2 separate regions of the Homo sapiens genome follow, and region 2 is linked to region 1. The links come from fine-mapping of genetic effects on gene expression. A gene starts in region 1. The other region holds a variant in brackets. All regions are shown on one strand. Distances are between the middles of the regions.

The links. PIP is the estimated chance that this variant, and not a neighbour inherited with it, causes the effect. A credible set is the group of variants that fine-mapping cannot tell apart.
Region 2: its variant is the best candidate, but not a certain one, in a credible set for the expression of WNT11 in whole blood (INTERVAL, PIP 0.80).

The regions. Positions count from the first base shown.
Region 1 is chr11:76,204,857-76,209,229 of GRCh38, forward strand. It overlaps WNT11 (Wnt family member 11), which reads right to left and starts at 1,646. Exons shown (of 5, transcript NM_004626.3): 1 at 1,469-1,646. The coding sequence starts at 1,551. RefSeq lists silencers at 1,559-1,798, 2,779-2,998 and enhancers at 2,103-2,770, 4,105-4,373.
Region 2 is chr11:76,182,391-76,186,763 of GRCh38, forward strand. WNT11 (Wnt family member 11) reads right to left here. Exons shown (of 5, transcript NM_004626.3): 5 at 3,935-4,373. Among named protein-coding and RNA genes, the nearest start is that of WNT11, 22 kb to the right of the region's middle. RefSeq lists enhancers at 1,948-2,729, 2,730-3,510, 4,292-4,373 and a silencer at 2,387-2,576. The variant G/C (reference allele first, on the strand shown) is at 2,580.

The DNA.
Region 1 (4,373 bases):
AATGACACCCAAGCCCACTGCAAGGCCTCTGACGCTCCTTCAGCCAATCCTCTCCTTCCCTGGACCTTAGTATCCTTATCTGTAAAATGGTGGCGGTGGATGAGAGAGCTTGGACTCGCTGATCGGAGGTCCCTGCCAGCTGGAACAGTGCTGGGTACCCCATTGCAAAAGGAAGGTGGCTGGTTTCTCACAGAACTCCTCAGGGACAGCTGGGAAAAGCTAGTGCCCAGGGCTGGGAGATTGCTGAGACCAGGCTTCTTGTAAACAAGAAAGGCAGGAAGACGGGGTTCCCTCCTCGAATCGTCAATTAATCAATAACTTGGCCTGAGAAGGGGCAGGGCCAGTGACCTCCAGACTGTTTGCTGGCGGCGCAGCCACTATCACCCTGTCTTCCAACTAATTCACAAACCCTTTGCAGCGCCCTCCCCAGCCCCCACAACCTGCCCCCTGCTGTCTTATCTGCAGGCTCCCTGCCCTGGCCCCAGATTCCAGACCCTTGTCCTGTCCTGGACTTTCCCTCTCAGGGAGCCCCTCTGCCCACAGCGTCCTCTCCATTGCCCGAACCAGCCAACTCCCAGCAGCGCTTCAGTCACCAGAGGCACAGCCTCGGAAAAGCTTCCCGGTGTCTCACATCTGTGTCCCCACCAGGTGGGCTTCCTTCCTCTAGGCCTCCAGATTCCCGCTCTGGTTTCTCCTCGGGCACTTGGACACTTGTGGAGTTATTTACAGCCTGGGCTTATCTCTCTCAACTTAGAGCGCAGCTCCTCCGGGAAGGGGCTGGTGTTTACTCCTCTCTTCACCACCCCCAGCCCCCTGAGCAGGCACTCCCTTCAGCTCGGCACCAAGCCTCTCTCTCCCTCCTACCCCTGCGTGAATAATTTCTATCTAAAGGAATGCCCTGCACATGTGCACAGTGGCATCTGACAGCTTCTGAGGTCCTTTCAGGAGCCTCTTCTCATCTGATTTGAGGGAGGTGGGGAGTCTCACCCTCCCGTGACAGAGGAGGACAAGGAGGCCCCAAGAAGTAGAGTGACACTTTCCCAAGGTCGCCCAGGTGGAGGGGTCAGGAGTGTCTCAGCGGAACTCCCGCTAGGGTCAAGGAGACTGACGGACAAGGACCGCTCCTGGGCTGGCCGCTCTGGATTGCGCCCCCTGAACAGAATGTCTTTTTCCATCTGCCCCTGCGGAGGTGGCCAGAAACTCCGTGGCCCTTGCGCCACCGTCAGCTGCACAGGACCAGGCGCTTCCATTGTGGTCCACGCCCGTCTCACTCCCTTTTCGCAAGCCTGCGGGAGGCAGGGACATTTTACAGAGGAGGAAACAGAGGCTGAGGGATGACTTGCCCACGACCGCCAAGCCAGCTTAGGCTCCCGGGTCTTGGTGCGCTCGCCCCATCCAGGGGACCCCAAAACGCCCTCCGCCGCCCCAGTCCCTGGCCTGTGCGCGTGGACGCGGGGTCCCTACTCACAGCCACTTGATGCCATAGCACACGCCGGTCTGGAGCGCCAGGGCGAAGAGCAGCGCCTCGCAGACCTGCGGCCGCGCCCTCATCGTCGCGCGGCGGGCGCGCCCGGGGTCACACCCAGGAGGAGCCGCGCCGAAGTCCTCCGCCTGCACGGCCGCCGCTGGTCCTGCACGCCGCCTGCAGCCGGGGAGAGCGGAGGCGGCGGGTTAAGGCGGCGCGCGGGCGGGGGAGGCGTTTTATTCAAATTACAAAGGAGGGGTCGGGGCCCGGGGAGGCCGAGCGCGGCGGGCGTCCCCTCCCGCTCCGCCCGGCCGGGGGACGCGTCCCGCGCCTGGCTCGAATTAGGCGCGGCCGAAGGCGTGTCTCCCAGCGTGGCCCCGGGCCCCAACGCGCCTTCGAGCCCCTCTGGCCGGGGCAGCCGGAAGGAGGGACAGGAGGCGGCAGAACCGGAGACCCAGGAGAGACCGGGCAGACACAGCGAGAGGGAGAAGGACGCTCAGAGGACAAGGCTGAGAGCCACGGAGACAGAGGGGGAAACCCGGACAGACGCAACCTGGGACGGAAAGGAGAGGAATGAGGAATCAGGAGTCCAGGCGAGGCAGCAGAGTCGAGGACCCGGAGCTGGGGCTTATCCCTGCAATATTGAGCATTAGTTAATAGGGCCTCGGCAATTCTCCTTCCCAAACGTGTTTCAGTTTACCTCCTCAGTAAGCTGGGGCAATTCGGGCACAATTCCGCTTTTATAAAGAACGTTCCCTGGCCGGGCAGGGTGGCTCACGCCTGTAATCCCAGCACTTTGGGAGGTCGAGGCGGGCGGGTCACCTGAGGTCAGGAGCTCGAGACCAGCCTGCCCAACATGGCAAAACCCCGTCTCTACTACGAATACAAAAAATTAGCCGGGCGTGGTGGCGGGCGCCTGTAATCCCAGCTACTCGGGAGGCTGAGGCAGGAGAACCGCTTGAACCCGGGAGGCGGAGGTTGCAGCGAGCGGAGATTGCGCCACTGCACTCTAGCCTGGGCGACAAGAGCGAAACTCCGTCTCAAACAAACAGACAAACAAAAAAAGTTCCCTAACACGATCGCATCTGCTCCTCCCAGCACCCCGTGAGATAGGCACTATCGCTGCCTCATCTCACAGATGAGGAAACTGAGGCACAGAGGTGGGGTTCAGCTAGGGAGCGGCAAGCCGGGTGTCCGGCGAAATCAGGAAATGGGGCTTGCTCGGGGCCCTGCTTTCTCGGTGTGGGAAGGGGAGGATGGGAAACGGGATGGTAGGGCTCTTTGTACAGTGAGGATTCCGAGTCTCCAAGTCCGTCTTTAGCCGCTCCACTTTGGAGGGTGGGAGTGGAAGCATGCGGGCTGGGACTGGGCAGCCCCGCCTTAGCGAAGCGGGGAAGCTCGCGGGGCTGGCGCGGTGTTGCCTCTGGCCTCCAGGCGGCGCCCTCGGGCCGCGGAGGAGAGGCTGCCCCGCCCGCCCGCAGCCCGCGGAGCAGCTATCTCCGCTTTTTTTCTCCTTCACTTCATTCTCACCTCATTAACTCCCTTCCCAGCTTCTCCCAAATTTACCAACACCTGGCGTTCGCCCGGAGTCAGACACAGCCCCAGCCCCTCTCCCCTCGGGAGGAGCAGAGACAAAGGGATTCCTTTCTAAGGGTTTGGGGAGTTGGAAAAGGAGGCGCCCACGGTAGTGGGGGCGCTGGAGCAGAAAAGGGACGTTCTTATCTGGCTCTGTGAGCTTGGGCAAGCCCTCAGCCACCCCAGCCTCGGTGTCCCCTTCCATAAGAACGAGGAATGGGGCTTCGCCGTGCGTCCCCCGAGGACCCCGTCTCCCTGCAGCCTGCGGGGCTCAGCGCCCCTCTGCTATTTGCACCGCGACGCCACCTGCGTGGCGCGTTCCTGCGCGTGGGTAGTCAGCACGCAGAGATGGGAAGCCCCACTGTTTTCTGGAGCCTGTCGGCAAAACCCACAGGAAGGCGAGGAGAAGCCTGGATCGTACAGTTTTTTTCCTCCGCAGAGCCCCGCAGCTAGCGCCCAGCACAGGGGCGCCTGCGACAAACATGCCGTCAAGGCTGGGGGTCTCAGAGGGGTTCTCGGTGTAACCCAGTCCCGTCCTCCCACCCAGCCTGTATCCAAATCCTTTGTCTTCCTGGTCCTGCAAGTTTCTTGCACTTCTCAGAACGAGAAAAATATCCGCTGGATATGGAGGGGGGAATCAAAACTCCAGTCACCGTCTTCCCCTCTCCCAAAGTGCGCCGCCCCCCGAAGGCACCCGGCATTCCTGGGTGGGGAGGGGGCGGGGGCTGCAAGAGGACGGAGGCGCGCGGACTCACAGCGGGGGATCTGTGTCCAGCCTGGTCTCCCAGGGAGAGGAGGAGCCCCCTAGGTCGCACAGCGGACGGGGACCCAGGCCTCCAGCCCCGCCCAGCTCTTTCGGTGCAGCCCCGGCTGTCCCAAGGCTCTCCCTCCGCCGCCCAAGCTCGTCGCGCGGGGAGGCAGCGCCTGGCCCGAGCCTCTGGGTCCTGACGGACTGTTCCTGTCCCTTGTACGAGCGCCCGGGACAGCCGCGCAGGCCACGGGGTCACCTTCCGCCTGAGCTCGCGGGTCAGGGTGCACGCGCCTCCTGAAGCCCCCAGCCCGCCAGGGGGCGCTAAGCCGGGGCTCGAGGAGGGGGGAATCGCGGCTGCCTCCTGCGTCGCGGGCTGGGGTCAAGTCCTCTTCCTGGGCCCCCGCTTCTCCGTCTGGGGATGGGACGACGTGTCGAGGGAGTGCCCCCTGTGTCCTGGTCGTTCTATAGGACACTTGCCGTGGGCCGCCCTGACCTGCCCGGCCCCTTGCTTGGGGCCGGGCGCGTAGTGGGCCGCGCCAGGCGTAGCACCTTTGGAGAGCGAGCGGTCACCTCCTCGAAGTT
Region 2 (4,373 bases), 22 kb before region 1:
GATGTCAGGAACTGCTCAGTCTTGAATTGTTCCCTGTTCCTCTCTTGCAATGCCCTCCAGCGGCTCCCAGTCAAAACCCCCACTCAGTCACAGACCACCTTCATCCCTGGGATGCATGTTGTGGAGGCTGAGACAAGCCCAACAGTTGGAGCCAAGCAGTCCGAGGTTTGAATCTCAGCTCCTCCACTAATTATTCTCTAACATTGGGCCAGTCACTTCCCTCTCTGAGCCTTAGTTTCCTCATCAATAAAACAGAGATACTGGGTCATATCCCTTAGATTGGGTGTAAGAATTGGACAAAACAACTGCCGAAGAGGCCCAGAGAGGGCCAGTGGTTGCCTAGAGTCACACAGCAAGAAGCTAGAAAAGATGCAGGATTCCTACCTCCTAGCCCTAAACTCCCCTTACCCCGTCCAGCCTCTCTGGGTCTGGGGTTCCGGACTGGAGACTGCATCATGCTGGGGCCTGGTTTGTGTAACCCAGTGGCTGGTCTCCACAGCCTCAGGAACCACAGACCAGTGGCTTGCTCAGGGCTGGGCTTGGGCCCCTTGGTTGTTCCTCTGGCCTGGCCTGGCCTCCTCACGGGGTCTTATCTGTCCACTCTCCCCTTTCCCACCAAACTAATCTCTCCCTCTTTTCAGGAGTTCCTGTTTCCTCTCTGCCGCCTTCTTGTCTCCCTCCTCAGACCCTGTCTCTCCCAGGTCTCCAGCCAGCCTCCCACACTTGGTTCAGAGCCGCCTCAGAGCGGCTGGTGCTGTCATCACTGGGGAGTCTCCATCTTTCGGGGGCTCTCCAAGCCTCACACAGCCCTGTCTGTGACTGCTGCCCCTTACACAGGAGGGAGATGGAGCAAGTCCTGGGAAGGGAAATCTGCTGGGGACAAGAATTCTGACACCCTCAGATCAGTATGCAGCCTTCAAAATCCTTTGGGTTGGCCATTGGCCTGGGGGCCTCTACAGGGCTGGCAAGGCAGTGGTTTGGGGTTTCTACTCCACAATTCCTGAGTACCAAGATCTCACGTTTCCAAATCTCTGAACACAATGAGATCCTGAGCTACCAGAGCTCCGAGGTCCTGGGAGCCTCCACACCCCTGTGATGCACCTGGCAGAGGCCCCAGCATCCACCTCCCCGGAGTGGGGCTCAGCCTGGTTGCATTCTTAGAGCCTTGACCTGGGGGTGAGGGGAAGCACCGGGACCAGCTCCCACTGCCCTTCGGTTGTCCAGCTCCTGGCCAGCCAGAAAGGTTAAGTGCTTTGTCACAGATGTGGGGACGGGCCAGTAGCCCGCTGAGTCAGGGACCCCCCCCCAGGGTCTCCTGTCCTGAGCTTGAGGACTCCCCTCCCAGCCCTCCAGCTCAGCCCAGGAAACGGTCTTCAGCTCTCCATGCAGCTCCCCCGAGCCTGCTGGGAGTGCGGACATGTGAGCAGGAACGCACCTGCGCTCAGAGCCCTGCTGTGCTGGGAGTTTTCCTGAGGTCTGGAGCGAGCCGCCTTTTCTTGCAGAGCCTCAGTTTCCTCCTCTGTCAATGGTAACAATACTCACTTCGGAGGGCTGCTGTGATGACTTGGGCCACTGTGTTTAGAAGGTCACACAGCAGGTGCACAATAAATGGTAGCAGTTATATCATGTGGCCACCCTTTCTGAGAGCCATTCTGGGTCCTTGGTCTGGTTTCCCCATTTACTTGTCCTGACAGAGGTCCAAAGGACACTCCCAAATCCAACATTTTGGAGGTATGTTTTATACCCAGCCCTGTTGTGCTGCCCCCCAGATCCCAGGGCCCATTGGTGCATATGGCTGGTCCCAGCCCATGAAAAGGCCCCAGACAGGTGGGGAAGACAGATGATATGACACAACATAGGCCTCCACAACACCTTGGTTCCATGAAACATTGCAGGGAGCACAGAGGCTGTGGAAACCCAGAGGAGGCCCCTGACCCAGGCTGAGGGTAGTTGGGGAGGGCTTCCTGGAGGAGGGAGCCATTTACCTGGCTTTTGCAGAAGAGGGCATTGGCTGGCAGCTTGAGAAGGAGGGTGATGGCTGCTTTAAATGTTCAGAGGGTTGTGGGGTGCCTGAAGAGGGGGAGATCCCTTCCACCTAGGGCACTGGGGAAGGTTTTGTGGAGAGGGCTGTGAGGGTTGTGTGGGATTCCAGCAGGGAAAACAGCACTCTTGGCGAGGGAGAACAGCAGATGCCCAGAGGGCAGGCAGGCTGAGCAGCTGGGAGTTGCAGGAAATGCTGTTGGAAGAATCGCCTGGGGGACAGGCCTTGTGTTCCAGGCTAGGGACTGGGGATTGGTTTTGTGGGCTAGGAGGTTGCTGAGAGCTATGAAGCAGGGAAGCCCTGGGCCTGGAGAGCGCACATTCCAGGGGCTCCTTCCAGGGAGGCTGGGGGTTTTCAACAGAGGGGCTGGCAGGGGCCCCACCCGGGAAGGCTCCACCTCCCCCCGTTCCCAGCCCCTTATCAGCTCTGTGACCACAGGAAGGCCCTTCCCATCTCTGAATTTCCTCATCTGCAAAACACACCAGAAGACTTATCTTGAGGTTCCTTGCAGCTGGTGACGCTGTGGCTCTGGCTGTCC[G/C]CACTGCAAGCTTTCAGGCAGGGCCTCGAGGATGGCCACAGAAGGCCCCCTTCTTCCCACTCAGGATGGGTCCAGCCCCTGAGGGGTCATCCATGCCATCCCACCCCCAAGGATGTGGCTTCACTTCTCCAAATCCTGTGCAAGGCCCCGCTCTGCCCCAGCCCCTCCAGGTGGTGTCTCAGTCCTCAGCCGGCTCGGGGAGGGAAGAGCACTGGTACTAAGTCCGAGTCTCTCTGGTGCATGCAGAGATTTGGATTATAACATCCTCTTACACCCCAGCCACAGCAAGATCCAGGTGATGAACCACTGCTTCTGTTTCGGGGCCACCTGCCCTGGCCAGGCACTGGGGATACCCCACTTACTCATCTCTTGGTTACTGGTGCTGCCTCCATGAGGGAGGTGACACGGAAGCTCAGAGGGACAGTGATGTGCCTGCGGTGATCCTGTTCCCCTTGGCACCCTGTCTTCACTTGGCAACAGCCAGGACCGCCGACCTCCCTCCTGCCTCCCTGGCTGTTCCTTCTGTCTCCTGTGTCTTCTCTGAGCTTCATCTCCCCAGCCTCCAAGGCAGGAGTGCCCCAGGCCTTGGTCCTCTTTACTCTTCTATCCCACACACTCCCTTAGCGATGACACCCAAATGTGGATCTCCAGCCCTGGCCGCTCCCCAGCACTCCAGACCCGGATATCTGCCCGGCCACTCAGTATTTCCACTAGGAGCGTAAACTGTATCACAATCCCCACGGGCCCAAATCTGAACCCCAGGCCTCTCCCCACCCCCATGTCGGCATTCGGCCCCTTCAGCCTTCCCAGTGCTCCAGCCAAAACCCCGGCAGTCATTCTTGGGCCTCCTTCCCCTTACACCCCACATGCAAAAAGAGAACAAATCCTGTTGGCTCCCCCTTCAAAACAGAACCAGAATCCAACCACTTCTCAACACGTCCAATGCTGCCAGCCTCCAGGCACGAGGCCTTTCCCAACCTTCAGCCTTCCTCCCCACCACTCCCATTTTACAAATGGGGAAACTGCAGCTGGCAGAGAGCCCTCCCCAGGGTCACGCAGAAAACCCACCAGGGCTAGCTAGAGCCTGGATCTGCACCACCTCCCCGAAGTCTGCATCCCAGCTGCCCAGGGAGTGTTTTCCCTTGAAGCCAGCTTAGCAGGCAGGCCTGACAACACGGCCAGGCTTTGAGCTGCGCCTGCGTGTGTGTCCCTGAGGAAAAAAGATGCTGCCAGCTGGGTTTATGTTTCAAGACGTCTGTCCTCGCCCTTGACCAAGAGCTCTTACAGGGAGATCAGGGCCAGGGCCTGGTGTGGGGGGAGCGCGGGGGGAGAAGGGACATCAATCGGAAGCCGCCTTGCCTGGAAACTGGAGAGCTCCCTCTGCCAGCCCCAGGGTCTGCCGAGTTCACTTGACGAGGCCGGGAACTGCAGGGGCGGGCTGGGGCTCACTCAGCATTTATTTCATACAGCTGCTTAAAAAGCTAGTTTTAAAATAGAGATCATTATATATATACATATATATTTATATATATAAAATATATAAAGAGGAATTGAGAAGTGCCACCCCAAAGAAAAAGCTATGTTTTATAAATATTTCTGTAGCTTCCACATCCCAAAGGAAGAAAAAGCAAAAAACAAAAGAAAACATTTACAACCCAAGCTAGTGATTCCATGTGGTGGGCCCAGCAGGCTCAGACCCCAGGGTGGGCCAGGGGGTCCCGCAGAACATTCTGAAGAAGGCGGGCAGACCCCTTCCCGGAGGCTGGTCTCTGTGGCCCTGAAAGGTCAAGTCTG